Linked DNA regions of Homo sapiens. The protein of the gene in region 2 purifies or fractionates together with the protein of the main gene of each other region. This does not show direct contact. Each region holds a gene or a part of one and is shown on either strand. Other genes may lie near its edges.

The links.
Region 1: the proteins of ENTPD1 (region 2) and PACSIN2 purify together in Homo sapiens (affinity purification with mass spectrometry; one large-scale study listed by BioGRID and IntAct). This does not show direct contact.
Region 3: the proteins of ENTPD1 (region 2) and ANKRD52 purify together in Homo sapiens (affinity purification with mass spectrometry; one large-scale study listed by BioGRID and IntAct). This does not show direct contact.

Annotation. Positions count from the first base shown.
Region 1 is NC_000022.11:42,874,601-42,879,212, forward strand, and holds part of PACSIN2 (protein kinase C and casein kinase substrate in neurons protein 2), read right to left. Parts: intron 4,570-4,612; coding exon 4,448-4,569; intron 2,411-4,447; coding exon 2,288-2,410; intron 1,734-2,287; coding exon 1,537-1,733; intron 931-1,536; exon of another isoform or gene 1-930.
Region 2 is NC_000010.11:95,761,465-95,767,004, reverse strand, and holds part of ENTPD1 (ectonucleoside triphosphate diphosphohydrolase 1), read right to left. Parts: intron 1-5,540.
Region 3 is NC_000012.12:56,250,836-56,255,447, forward strand, and holds part of ANKRD52 (serine/threonine-protein phosphatase 6 regulatory ankyrin repeat subunit C), read right to left. Parts: intron 4,118-4,612; coding exon 4,030-4,117; intron 3,886-4,029; coding exon 3,743-3,885; intron 3,445-3,742; coding exon 3,232-3,444; intron 2,966-3,231; coding exon 2,887-2,965; intron 2,568-2,886; coding exon 2,453-2,567; intron 2,252-2,452; coding exon 2,169-2,251; intron 2,063-2,168; coding exon 1,945-2,062; intron 1,736-1,944; coding exon 1,667-1,735; intron 1,481-1,666; coding exon 1,340-1,480; intron 1,261-1,339; coding exon 1,180-1,260; intron 1-1,179. UniProt on the Homo sapiens protein: Putative regulatory subunit of protein phosphatase 6 (PP6) that may be involved in the recognition of phosphoprotein substrates.

The DNA.
Region 1 (4,612 bases), on a different chromosome or scaffold from region 2:
TGGCTCTCCTGAGGGCTTCTCTGGCAGTTGGGGACCCCTAGAGAAAGGCTTCTCTCATGGCCCTGCGGGGCTAGCAGCTCCCAGACTACATATGGGGGAACCTGGTGGTCCTGGCCAACAGCTTCTCCAGATGCCCTTCTGTGTGACTAGCCAGTGCCCTGCAATTCACAGCCTTGGCCCAGCAAGGTGAGGAGTCCAGGCACTGGCTTGGCAGCACCTCACTATTTCTGAGTCTTGGCATTGGGCATCCGCTTTTTTTTTTTTTTTTGAAAAAGAGTTTTGCTCTGTCGCCCAGGCTGGAGTGCAGTGGCGCAATCTCGGCTCACTGCAAGCTCCGCCTCCCGGGTTCAAGCAATTTTCCTGCGTCAGCCTCCCGAGTAGCTGGGACTACAGGCGGCTGCCACCACGCCCGGCTAATTTTTTGTATTTTTAGTAGAGACGGGGTTTCACACTCTTAGCCAGGATGGTCTCAATCTCCTGACCTCGTGATCTGTGTGCCTCGGCCTCCCAAAGTGCTGGGATTACAGGCGTGAGCCACCATGCCCAGCCTACTTTTTTTTTTTTTTAAGAGATGGGGTCTTGCTCTCTCTTCTAGGCTAGAGTACGTGGTATGAACATGGCTCACTGTATCCTCTTGGGTTTAAGTGATCCTCTGCCTCAGCCTCCCAAGCAGCTGGGACTATAGGTATGCAACACCACGCCCAGCTAATCTGCTACTTTTGTTTGTTTATTTATTTGAGACAGGATCTCGCTCTGTTGCCCAGGTTATTTATTTGTTTGTTTGTTTGCGACAGGGTCTCGCTCTGTTGTCCAGGTTGGAGTATAGTGGTACAATCATGATTCATTGCAACCTCAATCTACTGGGCTCAGGTGATCCTCCCACCTCAGCCTCCCAGAGAGCTGGGACTACAGGCATGTGCCACTAAAATTAGCCCAGCTAATTTTTTTTTTTTGACACAAAGTCTTGCTCTGTCACCCAGCCTGGGGTACAGTGGTGTGACCTTGGCTCACTGCAACCTCCACCTCCCAGGTTCAAGTGATTCTCCTGCCGCAGCCTCCTGAGTAACTGTGATTATAGATGCCCCGCCACACGCCTGGCTCATTTTTGTATTTTTAGTAGAGACAGGGTTTCACCATGTTGGTTAGGCTGGGCTCGAACTCCTGACCTCAAGTGATCTGCCTGCCTTGGCCTCCCAAAGGTGCTGGGATTACAGGCGTGAGCCACCATGCCTGGCCTAATTTTTTGTATTTTTTGTAGAGACAGGTTTTGCCATTTTGCCCAGGTTGGTCTCATACTCCTGGGCTCAAGCGATCCTTCCACCTCGGCCTCCCAAAGCTCTGGGACTATAGGCATGAGCCACCACATCCAGCCAATTGGCTGCTTTTGACAATGAAGCCAGGGCACTGGGGAAGGGCCTGCAGTGACTCACAAGTGAAACTAGCAAGAACTTTTCCAGACTTAAAAAACAAAAAAGACCGCCCACAGCCTGCAGGTTGGAAGCCCTCCTCCCCTGGATGCTGGGGGAGCCCACCTACCAGCCTTGAAGCTCAGCTCATCATGCTCCTGCCCCTCATAGTCATACAGGGCCCGGACTCGCACTTCCGTCCCCGAGGTGGCGTCGTCGTCGAATGGATTCGAGTCCCCATTGGCATCCGTGGAGGAGAAGGGGTTGTTAGACTCATCGTCTGACCAGTCGGTGGGATAGCTCTGGGTCTTCTCGTAGCTGCTCACACTGCAAGAAAGGGGAGGCCACAGGGCCCTCAGCACAGGGCGGCAGAGGGTGTGAGGCCCCCGCCCCGCAAGGGGAGGGCACTGGAGCCTTGGGGCTCAGGGCTGAGGGCTCCTTCCGAAGGAGCACAGGTGGAGCCAGTGCTAGTGTGAGTTCATGCCATCCACACTCATCCTGAGCCATCAACAGGCTTTCCAGGGGCAGGCGGCTGGAGATGCCCACAGCAGAGGCCAACCTGGGGCCTCACTCTCTAGTCCCCAGCACAGACTGCGCGTTGTCTGTTTTCCTGTCATGGTGCTGCTAGGGCCTTGAAGGGTTAACAGAGGACAGAGAAAAAGCAACTTAAGATTGTTAGCTGTGCCCTCCCCGAGGAATGGGGGTGCCAGAGAGCCTGTGCCAGAGAGCAGGTAGTGGGCCAGGGTGCGGCACGCCAGGTGCCCACTTCCTGCAGAGCTCCGTGCATTGCCGAGTGCCGAGGGGTGAGACCCCTGGACAGAGAGAGAGGAAGAGAGACAGAGTGAGCGCGGTGGGAGCAGAGGAAGCATTTGTTCACCAACTTTTTGGCCTTAGTGTCGTCCTTCTCACTGACGGTGCTGCCCGTGTCGTCCTCATCCTCGAAGGGGTTGTAGCTGGACTGTGACTGCGCAGACTGGGCGGGGTTGCTCGGGACATTAAGGGTGCTATGGAGAGAGAGAGCTTTCAGGGGATCCCAGCTCTGCAGGGGCCCGTGAGGGTCCTGGCAACTCCTAGCTGCAGGATCTCAAGAGACAAATCAGCTCCTCCTGTGACCGGAGGGGACCGTGGTGTTTCAACAGAAAGGTTACTATGGCAGAATGCGGGCAATACTTCAGCTGTGAAACACGGTCCAGGAGCCTAGGAGAGGACTTGGTTTCCCTTTTCCTTCCTTGCACCTGGAGACAGTCCGTCCAGAACAGGGGCCCTGGGGTGGCCCAGGGGCGGGTGACAAGCCACAGCTGGAGCAAAAGTCGTTTCCAGGTTCAGGGCTTCTCCTCTGTCCTGACTCCCACCAATGTGAGCTGGGGGGGTCAAAAAGCCCCTCAGGGTCTCCTCTGAGAGTGACAGTGTGGGAGGGGCCGGCTCCCATGGATGAGTGGGAGAGGGCTCTGAGCTCTTCAGCCCACACGGCCTCCTCCTGACTACTAAGGGGTTCAGGGCTCGCTCTTCTGCTCTGTGGAGCTGAAGCCTCCAAAATCAGGGCCAGGGCCTGCGGCACCGTCTTTTCTAGATAGAAAGAAGATTCCTTTGGTGCTCCAGAGGGAAAATCCAGTCGTGCAACTGCCTACTGTTTGCCAGGCCCAGTGTGGGAACCAGAGAGATCTGGGCCAAGCTCTGCCTGAGGGCTGGGAGCCGGGAGCTGAGTTACACACTACGAAGACCACAGGCAGACCATCAAGCAATCCAATCAGACAGGCACCAAGGGCCCTGGCACCCCACCAAGTAACTGATCCTAGGACCGGGCTACCCTGGCCAGCAGCACCTTCTACTTCCAAGACCAGGGCCTCAGGGCACAGGCCCCCAAAGCACTGGATGGACTGCTCAGCCTGAGCACCCACCACCCCAGAACCAAGGAAGGGAGGCGAGGACATGCCTCCAATGCCACCAGGGTGATCCTGAGTGGCCAGTAACTGCCTCATCCACTTCAGCCTGGCAAGTGGTACTTGACCTAGGCCTGCTGGAGGCCAATATCCAGGCCACATGTCTGAGCTCACCGGCCCTCCTCCCTCCTTGGCACCTTTCTCTAGCAGACTGTTGTGAGACGGCACTGGTGGGGGCGGCTGGATTGTGCAGCAACCCTGGCCAGCCCAGGGCCCCCAGGGTCTCCTCTGAGGCAGTGTTTCTTCTTTCCCATTCCCACCCCCAAGCATACAGGTGCTGGCCTGATCCCTGGGACAGGCACTTACTGCCGAGCCCACCTGCCCAGACAGCGTGCAAAGCAGCGGAATGACGACAGCCACACCTGCTGGGGAGCCTGGGTGGGGGCTTCAGTGCCTGGGGCTGCAGGAAGGCCAAGGGAACCTGGGCTAAGCCTTCTTAGGAAGCCCCCGTATGAAATGACTATTACTGAGTGTCACATGGAGGCCTGTGGGCAGGTCCTATAGGAAGACCTCCTCTAGCACACACTTTCCAGAAGGTTCTAATGACCACAGTGCCACCCTTATATCTCTCATTTTCAGCCAATGACTAAGTCAGAAATAACCAATGCTCCTAGTGAAGAGGTAATTTGGAAAGGAGATGCCTGGCAGTCCTCTCCTGTCCCTCCCTCGACTGGCGCCTGCACACAATACAGAGTGAGCATGAACCTCGGCAGGACCTCAGCTGCCTGAGGGAACCAGGGTGGCACCTCCACCAGTGTCCGGGCAGGGCGGTGCTATCCCTGGGGACATGAATGCCAGCCCTGTCATCAGCTCCTCCCCACTCAGGTCTGAAGCTCAGGGCCAAGCCTCCCTCTCTGGATCTGTCAGCAGCTCTGGCACCAGGCAGGAAGACGACCTTCCCTGGAGATGCCCCTGGGCCACGGCCCACAGAGCTCAGGAGCCCAGGAACCTCCCAGGTGTCCAGGCTGGGCCACGGCCCACAGAGCTCAGGAGCCCAGGAACCTCCCAGGTGTCCAGGCCGGGGCTGCCCTGGACCATGCAGATTGCCCAGGGCCCCCACCATGGAACGGCCTCTTTTGGATGGAGGTGGCGCCCACTCACCTGCTGGGCTTACTCGGCAGAGACTGGTCGCCTGTCTGGTTGATGCCCGTCAGGGTGACGCCGTCAGTGGCCTTCTTCTTCTCTCTCCGGCTGAGGGTTCGATTCAGGTCTGCGGACCACTCCTAGGCAACAGGTGCCGAGGGAGAGAAACCAAAGGTTCACTAC
Region 2 (5,540 bases):
AGAAGGCTGAGGCAGGAGGATCACCTGAGCCCAGGAGTTCAAGGTTACATTGAGCTATGATTATGCTACTGCACTCCAGCCTAGGTGACAGAGCAAGACCCTGCCTCAAAAAAAAAAAAAAGATTGCTACAAGTACAATTAAAAGTAAGATGTCCGTTATTCACAGCTTTGTGGAAATATAAAAACAAATAACAAAGTCCAGAGTCTGTATAGCAAAAAGCATAACAGAAAAAAACATTAAACACTAAAGAGAATAAAATGAGAAAAGGCAGATAAAATAAATGTGAACTGTTTACATTCCTTTATTAAAACAGAGAATCAAATTGGATTTAGAAAGATTAAAAATAAAGATGGACAAAATATATCAGCCAAATGAGAAGGGGGAACAGAATTTAGGACTAAAAAAGTAGATAAAAAGAGTTATTTCAATATTTTATCAAAATATGAACTGCAAAAACATACAAAATATGAGTAGAGGTAAATAGACAACAGACAATTGTATTGAATTAAATGAATCTTAATTGCATTAAGAGCATGAAGTCATTATTATTTGAAGCACTGTTAGAGAATCTAAGAACTTATGAGGAATATAGTATTGAGCGTAATTGAGGTTAAAAGTAAATCTATGATAACAATTGTTTGACCAATTAACAAAATTTGATTATGGACTACAATTGAAAGTATTCTATCAGTGTTAGATTTCCTGAGTTTGACTACTGTACTGTGGTTATATAAGAGAAAATCTTTGTTCTTAGGAAATACATACTGAAATATTTAGGGGTAAAGGAACATAATATATACAACTTATTCTCAAATGGTTCAGGAACAATACTATATGTGACTGTTGTGTGTGGGAGAGATATAAAAGGGAAGAGAGAATGATAAATGTGGCAGAATTTTTTAAATTGGTGAATACTTGTGAAATGCTCTTTGAATTGTTCTTGTAACTTTTCTGTAATTTTGAAGTCATTTTAAAATAAAAAAATTAATACAACAACAAAAAAAGTAAATCTATGATAACAAACCAAAAATGAAATTTTAAAACAATTATATTTATAATAGCATCAAAAAGAAAATCATACTTAGGAACAAATTTAACAAAAGAAATACAAAAGTTACACTCTGAAAACTACAAAATATTACTTAAGGAAATTAAGTAAGACCTACATACACAGAAAGACATCATATGTTCATGGATTAGAAGATTTAATATTTTTAAGATGGCAATATTCTCTAAATAGATTTACAGTTGATGCAATCTTATCAAAATCTCAGCTGGCTTCCTTGCAGAAGTTGACAACCTGATCTTAAAATTCATATGGAAGTTAATGGGACCCATAATACCCCAAACAATATTTAAAAAATAAAATGAAATTGGAGGACTCACACTGCCTGATTTCAAAACTTACTACCAAGCTGTAGTATCAAGAAATGTGGAATTGACATAGGGCTAGATATATAAAGAAATGGAATATAACTGAGAGTCTAGAAAAAAACGCTCACACTTATGGGAAATTGATTTTCAACAGGGTGCCAAAACAATTCACTGGAGAAAATAATAATCTTTTCAACAAATGGTGCTGGAACAACTAGATATTCACACACAAAAACATGAAGTTTGGCCCCTACCTCATAACATATACAAAAACTAACTCAAAGTGGATTAAAAACCTAAATGCAAGGGCTAAAACTATGTAGCTCTTTGAAGAAAATATAGATGTATATCTTCATGACTTTGGATTAGGCAATAGTTTCTTAGATAGGACAACAAAACCATAAGAACCAAAGAAACTATAGATTGAATATCATCAAAATTTAAAACTTTTAAATTTTGTGCTGCAAACAACACTATCAAGAAAGTGAAAAGACAACCCACAGAATGGGAGAAAATTTTTGGAAATCATATATCTGAAAAGGGAATATATAAGGAATCATTGCAACTCAATCATAAAAAGGTAAACCCATTTAAAAAATGGGCAAAGAGGCCAGGCGTGGTGGCTCACGCCTGTAATCCCAGCACTTTGGGAGGCCGAGGCAGGTGGATCACCTGAGGTCAGGAGTTCGAGACCAGCCTGGCCAACATGGTGAAAGCCCGTCTCTACTAAAAATACAAAATTAGCCGGGTGTGGTGGCACATGCCTGTAATCCCAGCTACTCCGGAGGCTGAGGCAGGAGAACTGCTTGAACTCAGGAGGTGGAGGTTGCAGTGAGCCAAAATCACGCCATCACACTCCAGCCTGGGCAACAAGAGCAAAACTCCACCTCAAAAAAAAAAAAAAAAAAAAATGGGCAAAGGATCTGAACAGGCATTTTTCCAAAAAAGATCCACAAATGCCCACTAAACACATGAATAGATTTTCAAAACCATCAGCCATCAGGGAAATACAAATCAAAACCTCAATGAGATACTACTTCACACTCATTAGGAAGGCTATAATAAAAGATAGGGAATAAAAAGTGTTGGCAAGGATGTGGAGAAATTGGAATCACCATATATTGCTGGTGGAAATGTAAATGGTCCAGCTACTTTGGAAAACAGTCTGGCAGTTCATCAAATGGTTAAACATAGACATACAAGTGACCCAGCAATTTTGCTCCTAGGTATATAACCAAAAGAAATTAAAAACAAGTCCACACCAACACTTGTCCATGAATGCTCACAGCAGCATTATTCATAATGTCAAAAAGTAAAAACAATCCAAATATTCATCAACTGATGAATAAAATGTGGTATATACATTCAATGGGATATATGCTATGAAATGAATGTCCAGAATTGGCAAAACTGTGGGGACAGAAAGTAGATTGGTGTTTTCCTAGGACTCAGAACGGTGGGGGCCATGTAGGGAGGAAATGGGGAGTGCCCATTAATAGGTATGAGGTTTCTTTTCAGGGTGATAAAATGTTCCAAAATTGATTGTGGTGGTGGTACACAATCCTGTGAATATACTAAAACCACTGAATTGTCGACTTTAAGTTGGTGAATCGTATGATATGTGAATTGTGTCTCCAGATAATAAGATCAACAACTATGGATTTGAATCTCAACTTCAACACTTACCAACTGAGAGACTTTAACAATTGAGTTATTTAACAGTAAATAATACCAACCTCCTTGGATGGTTGGAGAACTGAATTAACATCTGTAAGGTGATTAGAATAGTGTGCGAACCAATGTCCACTATAAGCCTGTGTGTTAACTAACTAAAGCCACCAGCACTTCCTTTCATTAAACACTTACCGTATTCGTTTTCTTTGCCTGCTATAACAAATTACCATAAAAAAACTCAGTGGTTTAAAACAAGACACATTTATTCTCTTACAGTTCTGGAAGTCTGAAGGCTGAAATCAGTTTCACTGGACTGAAATCAAGGTGTTGGTAGGACTAAGCTCCTCTCTACCCATCAGAGAATATTATGGTTGGAGATAAATTACCATATAATTGAAAAGACTGGATTGATTAATAAATATCCAATTTTATATCCTAAAAACATACAGCTTCTTCACAAGTGTTCATAGATTTACACAAACCCATCATATGCTTAGTTACAAGGAAACCTCAGAAATTATAAAGCCATATTCTCTAACCATCATGGAAAAAATGAAAAATTAATTATAATGGCAAACAAAAATAAAAATCATTTACAATCTTTTAGAAGTAATATTCTGGGCTACAGAGAATAAAAATGTGATGTCAAACTATTTAGAAAACGATGACACCACATATAAAAATGTGTTGGATCTATTCACAGTAAGAACAGATTCAGAAAAACTATCAGAGGCCGGGTGTGGTGGCTCACACCTGTAATCCCAGCATTTTGGGAGGCCTAGGCAGGCAGATCACTTGAGTCCAGGAGTTTGAGACCAGCCTGGGCAACATGGTGAAACCCCGTCATAACAAAAATAAATAAATAAATAAATAAATACAGAAAAACTATTATAAGTATGGCAGGAAAACTTGAATACTTTTATATGATAAAGCATGCACATAAGTTGATTAAAAACATCAAATCCAAATAAGTATTATAATAAACAGGAAAAGGATGTAAAAAGTATACAAAAGAAGTATATCGTGAAAAATGTCAAATTTACTGTAATTAAGAAATACAAACTAAAACAATCTAAAAATTGATAAAATTATTTAAAAACAAAAACACCAAAGCTGTCAGGGATGCCACAAAACAGGAACTGCTTTTGAGAGCATGAAGGGCCCAACCTTTGGGAATGCAACCTGGCAACAGTAATCAAGAACTTTAAAAAACATTAACAAGTTTCAATCTAGTAAGTCTATTTCTGGGATCCTGTCCTCAGAGTGCAATCCTACATATGGAAAAAACTTCCTGCACAAAGACATTTATTGGAAATGGAAACATCCTCAATATTCAATAACAGGAGAACTGTTAAATAAACTATGTGACTATAAAAATTACGCTAACAAAGACCACGCTATAAAATGGAAAATACATGTGCTTCACTGCTACAGTAAAACCAGGCTTTAAAACTGCATATATAGCCTAATGATCATGGTGCCATCTCATAACTTTTCAAGGTCCTATTCAAGTGAATGCCAAATGAGAGAAACAACCCAGGCATAGTAAAAAAAAAAAAAAAAAACTGCCAGGAAATGGCACCAAAATATTACAAGTGATTGTTTTTCTTCCCTACTGTAATCTATAGTATCATGTTTTCTTTAATGGGCATGTGCTATGTTACTTGTATCCTCACGGACATAAAGCAATGCTTTACATCCTTCCTATGAATCAAAAGGAAACACTTCTTTTTTTTTTTTTTTTTTGCTTCTTTTTAAATTTTTTTAAACCAAGCAGTGGTTATGGAAGGAAACACCTCTTTGTGTAACAGGGCATGTACTGCCACTGTCGGTCTCTAAAGTCACTTTGATGATCTAACAAAAACAGCATGTTTCATACATGTTAGACAACCTCTACTCTGGATTTTTTTCTCCAACAACTTATTTTCTCTTCACAACCCCCTCAAGTTTTCAAGCCTAAAGAAATTCCATCGGTTCTCTCTGCACCCACTTTCCTTGCTTTGCTCCTAGAATTATTCCCACCTTTCTTCTGCAGAGCGTAGACAATGCCTCAGGCACACTGTTGCCAGTCTCAGAGCCCTGAGTCCCTGCTACCTCTAGCTCCCTGGGACTCCAACACCCAGCACAAGATTCTGCAGGCAGCCACACATTCTGCTCCAGTACTTCTCAAGTTGAAGGCAGAGAATAAGGGAAGTTTAGGGAAGCTTGGAGCCATGGAGAAAAGGTGGAGACATGCAGGAAATCTAACACAAGGCCTTTTTGTGTAACAGTAGTTTTTGTGTGCTGAAGATTCCAGTTTCTAGGATTTGGCAAATTGGGAGCCTCAATTTCCTGTTCTAGGGCATATATTTGCTGAATGAATAAATGAATTAGGCTTCCCATCATCCTGCAATGACACCTGACCAGTGACTAGAAGTGGCAGCTTGGTGAGGGAGTAGAGGGTGGGAAGAGCTTGGTCATTTAGTACCAAAATAAGCCCTGAGACTAAGGC
Region 3 (4,612 bases), on a different chromosome or scaffold from region 2:
TATGCATAAGTGTCCTTTTATTTATCTTTCCCAATAGATTATTAGCTTTCGAAAGACAGAAATTTGGGACAATTCATCCTTTTTAAATTTTTATTTAATTTTATTTATTTATTTGTTTTTTTGGAGACAGAGTCTCACTCTGTCGCCCAGGTTGGAGTGGATTAGTGTGATCTTGACTCACTGCAACCTCCACCTCCCTGGTTCAAGTGATTCTCCTGCCTTAGCCACCCGAGTAGCTGGGATTACAGGTGCCTGCCAACATGACCAGCTAATTTTTATATTTTTAGTAGAGACGGGGTTTCACCACGTTGGCCAGGCTGGTCTCGAACTCCTGACCTCAGATGATCTGCCTGCCTCGGCCTCCCAAAGTGCTGGGATTATAGGCGTGAACCACCACACCCGGCCTATTTTTAATTTTAATTTTTTTGAGACAGAGTCTTGTTCGGTTGCCCAGGCTGGAGTGCAGTGGCGTGATCTCGGCTCACTACAACCTCCACCTCCCTGGTTCAAGCAATTCTCCTGCCTCGGCCTCCTGAGTAGCTGGGATTATAGGCGTGTGCCACCACACCTGGTTAATTTTTTGTATTTTTAGTAGAGACGGGGTTTCACCATGTTGGTCAAGCTGGTCTTGAACTCCTAACCTCAGGTGATCTGCCTACCTCAGCCTCCCTAAGTGCTAGGATTACAAGCTTGAGCCACTACGCCCAGCCTCATCTTTTATCCTTAGTATCTAGCACAGTACTTGGAACCTAGTAAGTAAATATTTAATTAATGCTTGTGGAATAAACAAATTATTTTGTACATTTAGCTTTTCTAATCCTCTCAAGAAGACCAGCCGGGCGCGGTGAGCTGAGATCACACCACTGCATTCCAGCCTGGGCAACAGAGTGAGACTCTGTCTCCAAAAAAAAAAAAAAAAAAAAAATCCATTCCTTTAGGGAAGGAACTATGTCTCATACTTTTGGGTTTTTTTTTCCCCCTGAAGCTCCTGAGCTTCAATCTCATACTTTTGTCTTTGCCCACTATGGACTACACCCAGAGGGCTCAAGACACACTGCTGGCTGACCGGCAGGACAGCAGCAGTATAGGGTAGAGGTTCAGATTAGGTAGGAGGACAGTAGGGCCAGAGCTTGCATGGGTTGGGGAAAGCACATCCCAGGGGCCCTCTCTGCTACTCACAAGAAGGCCTCCTTCCTGCGGGACTCCTTCAGTGGCTCGTCCTCTTCGGCATCATGGCTGGAAGGTGTATGGGGTTCCGCTCTGGGGAAGAGAGAGAGAAAGTTAGGGCCAGGCTCAGGGAGGTGAATGGGGCTGAGAAGGACCAGACTGGTAGCCTCACCTCCTGTAAGTGTCAGAAGCGGCAGCGTAGTGGAGGGGAGAGCAGCCTTTACAGTCGGCCTCGTTGACACCTGCCCCAGCAGTCACCAATGTTACTGCACACTGGTAGCTACCGTTAGCAGCTGCATAGTGCAGTGGGGTCCTGGGGAAGAAGTGAAGGAGGGTGGGGAAGAGAATCAGAGACAGATACGAATGCAATCAGATGTGCAGCCAAATGCTGCTTTGTAACATTCTCCTTATTTAAGTCTCCAATCTAAACCCTTCCTCCCTCTACCATTTGTTTCTCTAATCAGATATTCCCTATGTTTACCCCTGCATATTAGCATACCTGCCAAATTTGTCCCTCCTCCTCAAGTCAGCTCCACTGCTCAACAGCAAATTAAGACATTCAACATTCCTAAAAGAAAGATGTGTTAAGAGAGTTACAGCCTCAAAGGGAAGCCACAGGCCCAGGGTGGGGCTAAGGAAGGATGGGACTAGCAAGCCCTTTCTGCTGTGACTGCTTTCATTGTGAGAGGGGGAATAGATCTGGGCAGGCAAGAATGAGGGGCCCAGACCTTTGCCCAGCTCCCTGCTCAAAGCATGGGAGAGAGAAAGAGAACTCACCCTCCGGAAGCAGCAGCATGAAGACAGGTACGGCCAAGGTTGTCAGGTGTATTGATGTCAAACCCAGCTGAAAGCACATGCTCATTGCTGAGTGAAGACACAATGCTGTACAACTGACCTGGAGGCACAGAACAGCCACAGGTCACATCTGAGAGTGTTCAGCAGGGAGGGAAAGGCCTTTGCTCTCCTATACACCTGCCAATCCCCAGCCCATCAGCACATACCTGAGGAAAGAAGCTTACGACAACAGTCAGAGAATCCAAAGAGAACAGCTAAGTGCAGGGGGAACATGTCATGGATGCCACGCCTAGAGAGAAGTTGAGGGACTCAGTCCTTGGGTCAAGGAGGGACCAAGTAAGACCTCTTCTGTGACCTACCACCACCCTAGAGTCAGGGTAGGAGGTTCTCCAAGGTGCCCTTTGGCAAGCTTATCTGTGCCTCCATGGTTGATGTGAGCAGTCTGTGCAGATCTGGGCAGCCCAGAAGTGGAGTCGGGGCCCTGACTCACCGGGCGGTATCTGCGCCATTGGTCATGAGGGTGCTGATGAGCAGCTCGTGTCCATATCGAGCAGCCACATGCAGTGGCGTGTTCCCAAATTTGTCGGCACAATCAATCTCGCTGCCTGTGAGGGGATGCACACACACAAGCTCAGGCAGACCTCAGGCTTAAGACCACTTTCGCGAGCTAGCCATGATTTGAGTGCCTACTATGTATGCATCAGGTGCCAGGCCCAGGATTCTACATATTTTATCCTGTTTCTAGGCCTTAGGAGACTGGGCAGGGCAGAGCAGGGCCATTTCCACAGGTCCCTTGGTCAGAGTTCCAAGGGCCTATCCTACTGGAAGAGGGCAGGAGAAGGAAGTTAGGAACCTCCCTAGATTCTAGAAATGAGTTCCTTGGGGGAGGAGGGGATGAGAGCACAAAGTCTCCCAGGTCCATACCATTCTGGATGAGGATCTGGGAGCGTGTGAAACGGCCATGGATTGCAGCCATGTGCAGAGGACTTTTCCCTTCTTTGCTCTGTGGAAACATGGTGGGTTTTTGTTTTTGTTTTTTTTTCCAGTGCAAAGCACAGAGAATGCCCTACCTCCCTTCCAAGGACATATCTCTAAGGACAAAAGGGTCATATGGCACCTTCTTAGCCCACTCTTTCCTGAGTCCCTGGCAAGGTCTGATTACCCTAGGAAGCAAGTGGATAATTCCCCAAGAGAGCTATCCAGATACAGTCAGGACCCCTAGATCCAAGTTTCGCTCCCCACTGGTCTAAGCCTTATCCCTTCAGGCACCTGGTAGTTGACGTCAGCCCCATTATTAACCAGTAGCTCCAAGCAGAGAGCGCCATTGGTGGAGACTGCAGCCACATGCAGTGGCGTGAAGCCCTTGTCATTCGGCTGGTTGACATTGGCTCCGGCATTCACCAGCTCAATAGCCACAGCATCCTGGCCCAGGTAGCAGGCGATGTGCAAAGCTGTGTTTCCAAAAGCATTGGGTTCATCGATCTGGATATTCAGGGGTGAGAGTAAGGTGGTATCAGTTTAAACAAAGTAGAAGCCAGCACATGTAGCCTCCAGATCCCAGAAATCCAACGACTGCCTCATTTCCTCTCGGGTTTATGACCCAAGGTACTAAGGTACTAAGGGCACTATGGCTAAGGTAAGCATTATTCAGACCCTCTCTACCACGTCCTTCCAACTTCCCAAAACTATACCAACATCCCAATACCTCATATCTCCGTAACAGACTATAATCTCCTACTTGCTGCCCATAGTTCCCAACCCCAGAGCTCAAAGCCCTGACCTCCGCTCCCATCCGAAGCAGGTACTTCACCACTTCAATCTGGCCACTGGCAGCAGCTGTATGGAGCAGCCCATAGCCCTTGCGGTCCTTGCAGCCGAGGTCTGCTCCCCGTGCCACCAGCAGTTTTAGGACCTCCAAGTGCCCTGAGAAAAGAGAAGACACTCTAAAGGAAGTAGAAGGTAAACTCTAAGACCCTACACTCCTCTCTTCAAAGGCTGCAACCCCACATCCCTGCCCTAGGAATCCTAAATGTCAAATTTCTGATTTTCCCGTGTATTCTCTCTCACCTAGAAAAGCTGCCCAATGCAGAGGCTGCCGCTCCTTTTTGTCACAGACATTCAGGCTGGCTCCCTTGTTGAGGAGCAGGTTCACCGTCTGCATCAGGATATGAAAGACACCTGTTCAGAGCTAGATTCGTGCCCTCAACCTACCTAAGAGCAGAGGCCTCATCTCCTGAAAAGGCTGAGGCAGCCTAATGCCTTTTTCCATGAGCAAAACAACCTGGAGGACTCGAGGGAACAGCAGAAGCAGGCACTAAGGAGGAGATACTGGAGAGATTTGGAACTTTAAGGGAAACAAGAGAGTCTCTTCAGGTGATCTGGTGGTTCTTAAACTCTTTTTTTTTTTTTTTTTGAGACAGTCTCGCTCTGTTACCCAGGCTGGAGTTCAGTGGCATGATTTCGGCTCATTGCAAGCTCCGCCTCCCGGGTTCACGCCATTCTCCTGCCTCAGTCTCCCGAGTAGCTGGGACTACAGGCGGCCGCCACCACACCCGGCTAATTTTTTGTATTTTTAGTAGAGACAGGGTTTCACCATGTTAGCCAGGATGATCTCGATCTCCTGATCTCATGATCCACCCGCCTTCGCCTC